Regions from separate parts of the Homo sapiens genome. Here all the other regions are linked to region 1. The links come from fine-mapping of genetic effects on gene expression. A gene starts in region 1. Each other region holds a variant in brackets. All regions are shown on one strand. Distances are from middle to middle.

Region 1 (2,761 bases):
CCGGGAAGCGGAGCTTGCAGTGAGCCGAGATCGCGCCACTGCACGCCAGCCTGGGCGACTGAGCAAGACTCCATCTCAAAAAACAAACAAATAAAAAGATAACTGTCTGTCTTGTCTTTTGGGGTATTGAGAGCATTTCTGATTACCCATTGTCTCCCCAACAGTTGTTGGAATACTGTCTGGGCAAAATTGTGCCTGGGCAGATAAAAATCAGACATGTTTAATAGGAAGTTGTTATGTTTTGTTTCCCCTTGACAGAGGAAAGCAAGAGTCCCTCAGCTCTGCCCCAACCAATCACCTGTGGCTTATGGGAGGGTGGAGGAAGGGAACCATGAGGAGGGCCCCCCCAACACACTCCTTTTCCATGCCATGCTCCCCGCAATTGTGGGCACCCCCCGCGTGAAGGGACCCACTTCTCTGACAGAGCCTTCTTACCCACCTGGGTAGAAGACCTCACTTTTGGTGGTGCCCTCTCTCCACTGGTGGAAGGTGCCAGAGATGATGGTATCCGAGATCTCAGCCCAGTAGCGCCCTGAGTGACAATCGCACATGACACTATCAGGGTATTCGCGCCATTGCATGGCCCAGCCAAACATCAGAAAGGAGGGCATGGGCCCCTTTACAACCCCAGCCTCCCAGTCTGGCCCGCCGCTAGCACTGACCCGAGTGGCCGCGGGAGCCCAAGGCGGTGCCGAAGAGCAGCACATACTCGGACAGCGAGGCGTGCAGAAGGCACATGGCGCCCATCCAGCCACCCGCATTCACGAACACCCACTGCAGCTCCTCGTCGGGCAGCACGTGGCCTGGGTGCAGCCGCCGCAGCTCCACGATCAGACGAGAGAAGGCCAGCTCGTGGTCCAGCCCTGGCGGAGGCAGAGGGGCGGCGGAGTCAGGGCTGGCACCGGTCCTAGGTCCGGGGATGGCGCCTTCGGAACCCTAGGCTCCGCTCCCAGGCCGGCCGCTCCCCTCCCTGCCCTCTGCCCGCTCACCAGCGTACTGCCGCGCCAACTGCGCTATCTCTTCGCGCTGGAAGACGAAGCTCTGCGTACCCAGCCAGAGCCAGACGACCTGGGTCAGCACCGCTGCGACAGCCAGGAGCAGCGCGGCCCACGCCCACCGCCGGCCCACGGCCCACTGCATCCCGGCGGGCGGCCTGGCACGGCGCAGCTCAGGAGGGAGCCGGGGCCTGAGGCTTTGCGCTCACGGCCTCGGAGCCCGCCGGCTGCCCACGAAGCGCTCCCCCGCCACCGCCGTGGTACGGCTCGCCCTGACCAATCGGAGCGGCCCGGGCACCTTGGCACCGCCCTTCGGTTGAACCATTTCCTCGGGGGGAGCACGGAGGAGTGGGGCGGTGCCGCGCAAGGGAGGCAAGGGGGCGGGGCCAAGTCGCCCAGCGGCAGATGTCAGGGTCTTCAGGCGAGGTCTGACCTAGCTAGCGCCACTCTACATACGGATAGGTGTGGGGATAGTGAGACCCAGAATGGACGGGCTCGCCCGAGCTCACTGGCTGGTGAAGCAGACGAGCCCGGAAGTGAAGCCTTCTGGGACTCAACGATTGTTAAGGCCCGCCTTTACCAGGACTGAAGCGGAGAGGAGGCAGTTCAAGCTGGGAGCCCCAGGGTGGGCATTCCAGAGGCGGTGACACCTGAGCAGTGTCTTTAAGAGCTCGCAGAAGGGGCATGCCAGCCCACAGGGACCAGCCCCTAGAGCAAAGGCCTCCGAGGAGAGACAGCTTGGGGTCTTCAGGGGCCTACAATTCCTTCTCTGTTCTGCGGCACAAAATGTGAGAGGAGGCCTTGTAAACCAGCTGAGGGTTATCAGCAAGGGAGGAAGGGGATTAGATTTTGCCACCGAGTGGCACAGGACTGTCGAGTGGAGGGGAGCAAGATGAGTCAGGGAGACCATGACTGTGGGCCAGGTAAGAGGGAAGGTCTGTGTCAGTGGAGATGGAAGAAAGAAATGAGCTTAACAACTCTGGAAATGGAGTTGGCAGGGCTTGATCTCTTCTTCCTGGAATACTCTTTCCCCCTTTATCCTATCCCCACTTTCCCCTTATTTGGCTAACATCCTTTGCATGTCTAGTGGGCAGTTGAGTGTCCAGGTCTCGAAGCTCAGCTCCAGTCTGGAGATAGAGCTGGGAGTTGTCATTCATTCAGATACTTTGTTGGCACTTGTATGTGCCAAGTTCTGTGGTGGCCATTAGGGATATGGCTAGAAACAATGGTCCTACTCCCCAGCTTAGAGATCTCACTGGAGAGTCTACAGAAAACCTCTAAGAATGGATGAAATCTCACAGGGAGAGAGAATAGAGTAAGATAAGGCTAAAGACAGAGCCCTGGAGAGCACCAACAGCAAAGGGTAGGCAGAGGAAGAAGAAAGCAAAAAGGAAAAGAAACAAAAGAGAAAAGAGGTAGCATTGTGCAGTGATTAAGAAATAAACTCTGGAGCTGGACTGCCTGAGTTCAAGGCCTGGCTCCTGCTACCTACTAGTTGTCTGATCTTGGGCAGTTTACTTAAAATCTCTGTAACTTAGTTTTCTTACCTGTAAAATGGAATGGAGATAAGTACCTACCTCATAGTACATATCTTCATTGTGATGAGATTAGATGGGTTAATATTTATAAAGCAGTTAGTGCCTCACATGGTGAGAATTTTATGTGATGGTTATATATATAAAACATAAAGGAACTGGAAAAAAGTAGCCTCATACATTTTTGACCTTAAAGAAAGAAACTGAGGCCGGGCGAGGTGGCTCATAACT
Region 2 (2,761 bases), 34 kb after region 1:
TCGCCTCTCTCTCCCTTTTTGTGGAGGAAACTCTTTTCTCTTTCACAACTCTCCGCAGTAGACTGCACCTGTTTTTCACTTTTTGGCTTCAGCTCCGAGAATTTCAGCAATAAGCAGTTTGGACAAGGGGAGGAGAGTTTGCACTATTACCATTAGGGGAAGATTTGCAAGGTTTGTGATGTTGCTCCTTTGGAGGCATTTGAGCCATCAGTCTCAAGGCTGGGAGTCAGGGTTTGGTTCAAGATTAGGGTCAGAGGTAGGAATGTGTCTCCTCCCTAGGTTCCTCACTGCCAGCTCTTCTCTGTAGTACTAAGATACCTGGGAGTAGGAGGAGTGGGAAAGATGGGACATAGCCACCCACTAGATTCCCTGAGGGACAATCACAAGAGCAGGGTAAGGATGAGAAGGTCCTCTCCCAGATTCTCCAGACCTCCCTGGGCCTATCACAGTGCCTATATATCCACCATCTGAGATCCATTCCTCCCTTGGAAAGTGAAGCTAAATGGAACATTCTTTGGAAGCAGGTTCAGCTCCCCTATCTCTCATCTCTGGACTCTAGGACTTCACCTTCCTGGCCCAGCCAGCACTGTCCCTCTCCCTTATTGACCCATTTTCCTATGCCCCAGAGCTGAGTTAGAATAGCTGGAGGAGAACTTGGCCTAGAACATGCCCATTCTCTACCGTGGCCTCCCTATCCTGGGAATTGAGAGGGATTTTTGAGGAGAGGGTTTGGTCTGCTCACAGAGTAACAGGAAAAGAAAGGAATGAGGGAGTCCTGAGAAGCAGGCTTACTGTGTACTGGTTGCCAATTTGTCTGAGTCCAGTGGGAGAACACATCCAACAAGTTATATGAAATGGATTTATTACTCTCAGGTAGGCAGCAAGGGAAACAGAATCCCAGGATTAATTGTGAGGCAGCCCCCAAGGCTCAGGAAAGCTGCCCAGGGCAGATGGCTTCATCTGCCTATGCTGCACTTGCACTGCAGCCAAGGACTCCAGAAAGCAGCCTGCCTTGGGTTTTATACCCCAGGGCAATGTGAATTCCTGGGCTAAAACATTGAAGGATATTGTTTCTGGGGTGGGACTAGAAGAGAGCCTGTTCCTTGTCTGTTTCTGTCACCTCTTCCTTATCTCAAGATTTTGCATTCCAAGTGAGAAAGGGAGGAGAACTGGGTCAGTGTACGGTCACCCAGAGAACTGTTCTGCCAGACCCAAGAGATAGACCTCTCAGAAGACACTATTGTGGAGTGCTATTCTGTTTCCCATTCCAGATCTAGAGTATATAGTGGAGCAGATTTAATTGCCTGTATTTTTCTGCC[TCATC/T]CATCCATCCATCCATCCATCCATCCATCCATCCATCCATCCATGTGTCTATATGTCTACTCATCTTTATCTCTTCATCAGCCCATTCTTCCTTCTTTCATCTTTCATTTATTTTTTCATATATTCATTGTGACCTGTTCATCTGTATGTTCAACCATTATTCATTTATTGTTTCCCTTCATTTGTTTGTCTCTCAGTTATGGTAATAATTAACATTTATGATACTTAAGTGCCAGGCACCATGCAAAATGCTTTAAATTCATTGTCTCATGACAAATCTATGAAGTGGATTGCTGTGGGCTGTTTTTGTTTATGCAGACCACTTTTCTACTTTTCTATACCCCTTTTTGTGGTTCCTGTAGGAAACTCCTTTCCCACTTAACATGGTCTTGGTGGGGCTGTCAGCTACAGTGCTCTGATCAGAGTACCCCTTTTCCTGGCCACTGTGATAGACTGAAGAACTGAGTATGTATCACAAGTACAGTTAACCAGAGCTTTCTATGAGATTTGATGTTTGGATGCTAGGAGAAAGAGAGTCTCTTTTAGATCAATCAATATAAAAATTTAGGCTTAAGGCTTCTAGTGGCCATATTTCTTGCTACTAGAAGAGCACCTGTATCTTAGACCATTTTCTGTTTCTTAACAGAATACCTAAATCTGGGTAATTTATAAAGAAAAATAATTTATTTCTTACAGTTATGGAGGCTGAGAAGTCCAAGATTGAGGGGACATACCTGGTGAGATCCTTCTTGCTGGTGGGGACTCTCTGCAGGGTCGTGAGGTGTGGCACAGGGCATCACATGGTGAGGGGGCTGAGTGTCCTAGCCCGTGTCTTTTCTTAGGAAGCCTCTAGTCCCACACCCATAATAACCCATTACTCCATGGATGGATTCATCCATTCATCAAGGCAGAGCCCTCATGACCCAATCACTACTTAAAGGCCCCACCTTTCAATATTGCTACATTTGGGATTAAATTTCTTTTATTTATTTTTAATTTGTTATATATTTTTAAGAGACGAAGTCTCACTCTGTCGCCCAGGCTGGAGTGCAGTGGCATGATCATGGCTCACTGCAGCCTTGAACTCCTGGTCTCAGCCAGTTCTTCTGCCTCAGCTTCCCAAGTAGCTGAGACTACAGCTACAGGTGTGCACCACCATGCCCAGCCAGGGATTAAATTTCAGCATGAGTTTTGGAGGGGACAAATATTCAAACCATAGCAACCTGTCTATGACAGGAATGAGATCCCTACACAAAAAGATTAGTCAGAGCATGGTGGCTCATGCCTGTAAACCCAGCACTTTGGAAGGCCAAGGCGGACAGATCACCTGGGGTCAGAAGTTTGACACCAGCCTAGCCAACCTAGTGAAATCCTGTCTCTACTAAAAATACAAAAATTAGCCAGTCGTGGTGGCATGTACCTGCAGTCCCAGCTACTC
Region 3 (2,761 bases), 47 kb after region 1:
CGTGAGCCACCATGCCCGGCCAAAATATATACTTTCAAAACAACTTGGAGGCTAGGTTCAAGTTGAGAATTCTTGAACTCCTTGGAGATCCATGATGGAATGAGGTGGTAAGGGGAGAGCCCATCACCAGCCCTCCACTTGTCCCTCTCCTCTTCCTATCCACAGTTCTATCCTGCACCATGAAGGGTCTCACGTGTCTGGGTGTAAACACTCCAGCCCCATACATACAAGCTCCTTCTACATTCCCTGCAAATAGCTACTTCTTGGCTACCCTCTGGACCTGGTAGTGTGTATATCAGTAACATAGTCTATCCTAGGAAGAACAAATCTGAGGAAGAGGCCCATAATGATATTGGAAGCTACTTGGGGGCATTTGGGCAGGAAATTCTCTGTTTTTCAATTCCTGAAATATGGTCTAGAAGAAAAGAATGAGTTCTGGGTGGGTGCTCCCTTCGTCCTGTGGACTTTTTTTTCCTGTGTCCAGAGATATGATTAGAGGAGGGCCAGATCAGGGTCATCTAAAACATGGGATGCAGGGCAAGGGCCCCAGTTGTCTGGACATAAGCATTGTCCTGGCCACTTGGCATCGCCTTTTGGTGGTGCCACCATGCTGTCTTGGAGGCCTATCTGGACCATCTGTACTGTACCGTATGCTCTGGGAGTGGTTCTGGCTGCCTAGGCTCACTTATTCTCGCTATTTTCTGCATCTTCCCAGGGTCTTTTTAATAAACTCCTTTTCTGTTGGAATCAGCCAGTGAGTTTCAGTGGCTTGCAAGTAAGAATCCTGATCCACACTTTTGTTTATTTGCCTTTTGTTTTTGGAGGAGAGGGGGAAGCTTCATGAAGACCAAGACCATATCTATCTTGTTCACTATCGTATCACCAGCACCTAGAATAGTGCCTGGAATGAATAAGTGTTCTGGGTTGCAGACAGTGATGAGGCATCACTTTAGACGTGAGGGGTTTTCCCAGGGCTGGAAACCTATGTGATGGCAGCGCTGAGACTACTGGGGGCCTTACACTAACATTCAGAGTGATACTCTGGCACTCAGTGCTGCCATACCAGGAGCCATTTACGTAGACTACAGAGAGGATGGTGCCCCCTGGAGTTGTGCAGTGCTGCTGTCCTGCCTCACAGGTTTAAGTGTTCCTGACAGTGGTAGGGTTTCCTGAGAGGAATGGTGGCTTGATAGTAATGGGGGGACCTTGACATTAATGGGTGTCCTGTCAGCAATGAGGACATAATAGGCATTGGG[A/G]CATCCTATCAGGAATGGGGGTTCCTCAACTGATGAGCACTTTGCAGTGTTGAGGCCCTGACAGAAGGGCTGGCTTCCTCTTGGGAGAGGACCCTTGAAATGATGGTTTGGCAGGAATGAGGTCGACGTGGTGATTGGGGTTTGGATTGTGTTAGGCTCAGATTTCCAGGGACTGGGATTCTGAGATCAAAAGCCCTAGGAGATCTGGTTGTCCCAGAATGGTAGTGTTCCTGTGGCTGGGGTGAAAGCTTTCCCACCTCTGCCAGGTTGGAGCCGAGGGTGGCTCACATCTTCTGCATCCCCCTGGAGCCACGGGGAAGACCCAAAGGCCCTAGAAGTAGGGTGGGGAGGCCTGATTCCCTCATCTACCCTGATCCTTAGAGGTTCTGTCCTTGCTGTTTTCCTCCAACCCTGCCCTGCCTGCCCCTGGCCCCTTGGGAGATGGAAGTGTCCCTCAGAAATGGGCCTTTTGAGAGTTGATGCTGCCTTGCTGCCCTCAGATGCTTTGCTCTTCAGAGGTCCTCTGCCACCTGCCGATCAGACGCCTGGCCCCACTCCTTTCCAGGAGCCCTGCCTGTCACAAGGTTCCTTGTCCTGCCTCTACCCCTACCCTCCAGATCCCCAGCACTCTTCCTACATTCCTCATTTCCTTTCAATATCACCAGGTCCTGGCATCTGATACTCCCCTGGGAATAGGAGTAGGGTGGGCATTGCTGTAGCCCAATCCCCTTCTCTACTCCTCTGTTGTTGGGAAAACTGAGGCCTGAGTAAACTCCCTCTTTGAGGCTCTGGGGAAGCTGATGCTCCTTCTACTGCAGAGGCCCAGGAAGCTGGAAGCCCTCTAGGGTGTGTCTTTGTGTCTGGGTTCAAGTGTTAGGACCCCACCTTTGGCCACCAGCTTCCTCTCTTGTTTTTTCCCCAGCTCTTTCTAGCAAGCTGAGCTTTTCTACCCCAACTAGACTTCCCAGCCCCCAGCCCTCAGTCCAAGTGCTGCCCATCAGTCAGGCTTAGACTGCAATCCCAGCTTTGCCACTCACCAGTTGAGTTGACTTGGGAGGTCATTCTCCTCTGTGCTTCAAATTCCTTATACATAGAATGGTACTAATGATACCTCATGGGATCGTTTGAGGGTGCAGTGATGTAGTGCCAAGAAAGGACTCAGCTTGGAGACTCGCACATGGCCAGCACCCAAAAGTAGTGGCTTTCCCTATTTCCATGGGCTGCTTCTCCACATCTGGCCTTGCTGTACTGTTCTCCATTTGTAATTAGGAGATAGGTCAACTCAGAGAAGTGGTATGTGTAATAGTTCAGAGTAGATATTCTGGAGCCAAACTGCCCAGACAGGAACGCCAGCTCTGCCTTTTTTCTAGTTGTCTATCCTGGGCAGGCGACTTAACCTCTGTACCTCAGTTTTCTCAGCTGCAACATAAGAATGGTAATAGCACTTAAAGCAGTGCCCAGTACCTGGTAAGCGTCAGTGGTGAATTAGCTAATACTCAGAGCCA

Which allele goes with the higher level. Positions count from the first base shown, and alleles are read on the strand shown. Sizes are in standard deviations (SD) of each study's normalised expression. Not every link is listed here.
For the expression in B cells of the gene that starts at base 1,230 in region 1, TCATC is the low allele of the variant in region 2 and T is the other (moderate effect, 0.40 SD a copy in CEDAR).

Evidence for each region.
Region 2: its variant is fine-mapped to the expression of SIGMAR1 in B cells (CEDAR, PIP 0.95).
Region 3: its variant is fine-mapped to the expression of SIGMAR1 in whole blood (TOPMed, PIP above 0.99).

The regions. Positions count from the first base shown.
Region 1 is chr9:34,636,558-34,639,318 of GRCh38, forward strand. SIGMAR1 (sigma non-opioid intracellular receptor 1) reads right to left here and starts at 1,230. Exons shown (of 4, transcript NM_005866.4): 1 at 990-1,230; 2 at 663-863; 3 at 440-532. The coding sequence starts at 1,140. RefSeq lists a silencer at 980-1,469.
Region 2 is chr9:34,670,488-34,673,248 of GRCh38, forward strand. It overlaps a transcript of PHF24 not described here. Among named protein-coding and RNA genes, the nearest start is that of CCL27, 9.2 kb to the left of the region's middle. The variant TCATC/T (reference allele first, on the strand shown) is at 1,320.
Region 3 is chr9:34,683,340-34,686,100 of GRCh38, forward strand. It overlaps a transcript of PHF24 not described here. Among named protein-coding and RNA genes, the nearest start is that of CCL19, 6.6 kb to the right of the region's middle. The variant A/G (reference allele first, on the strand shown) is at 1,257.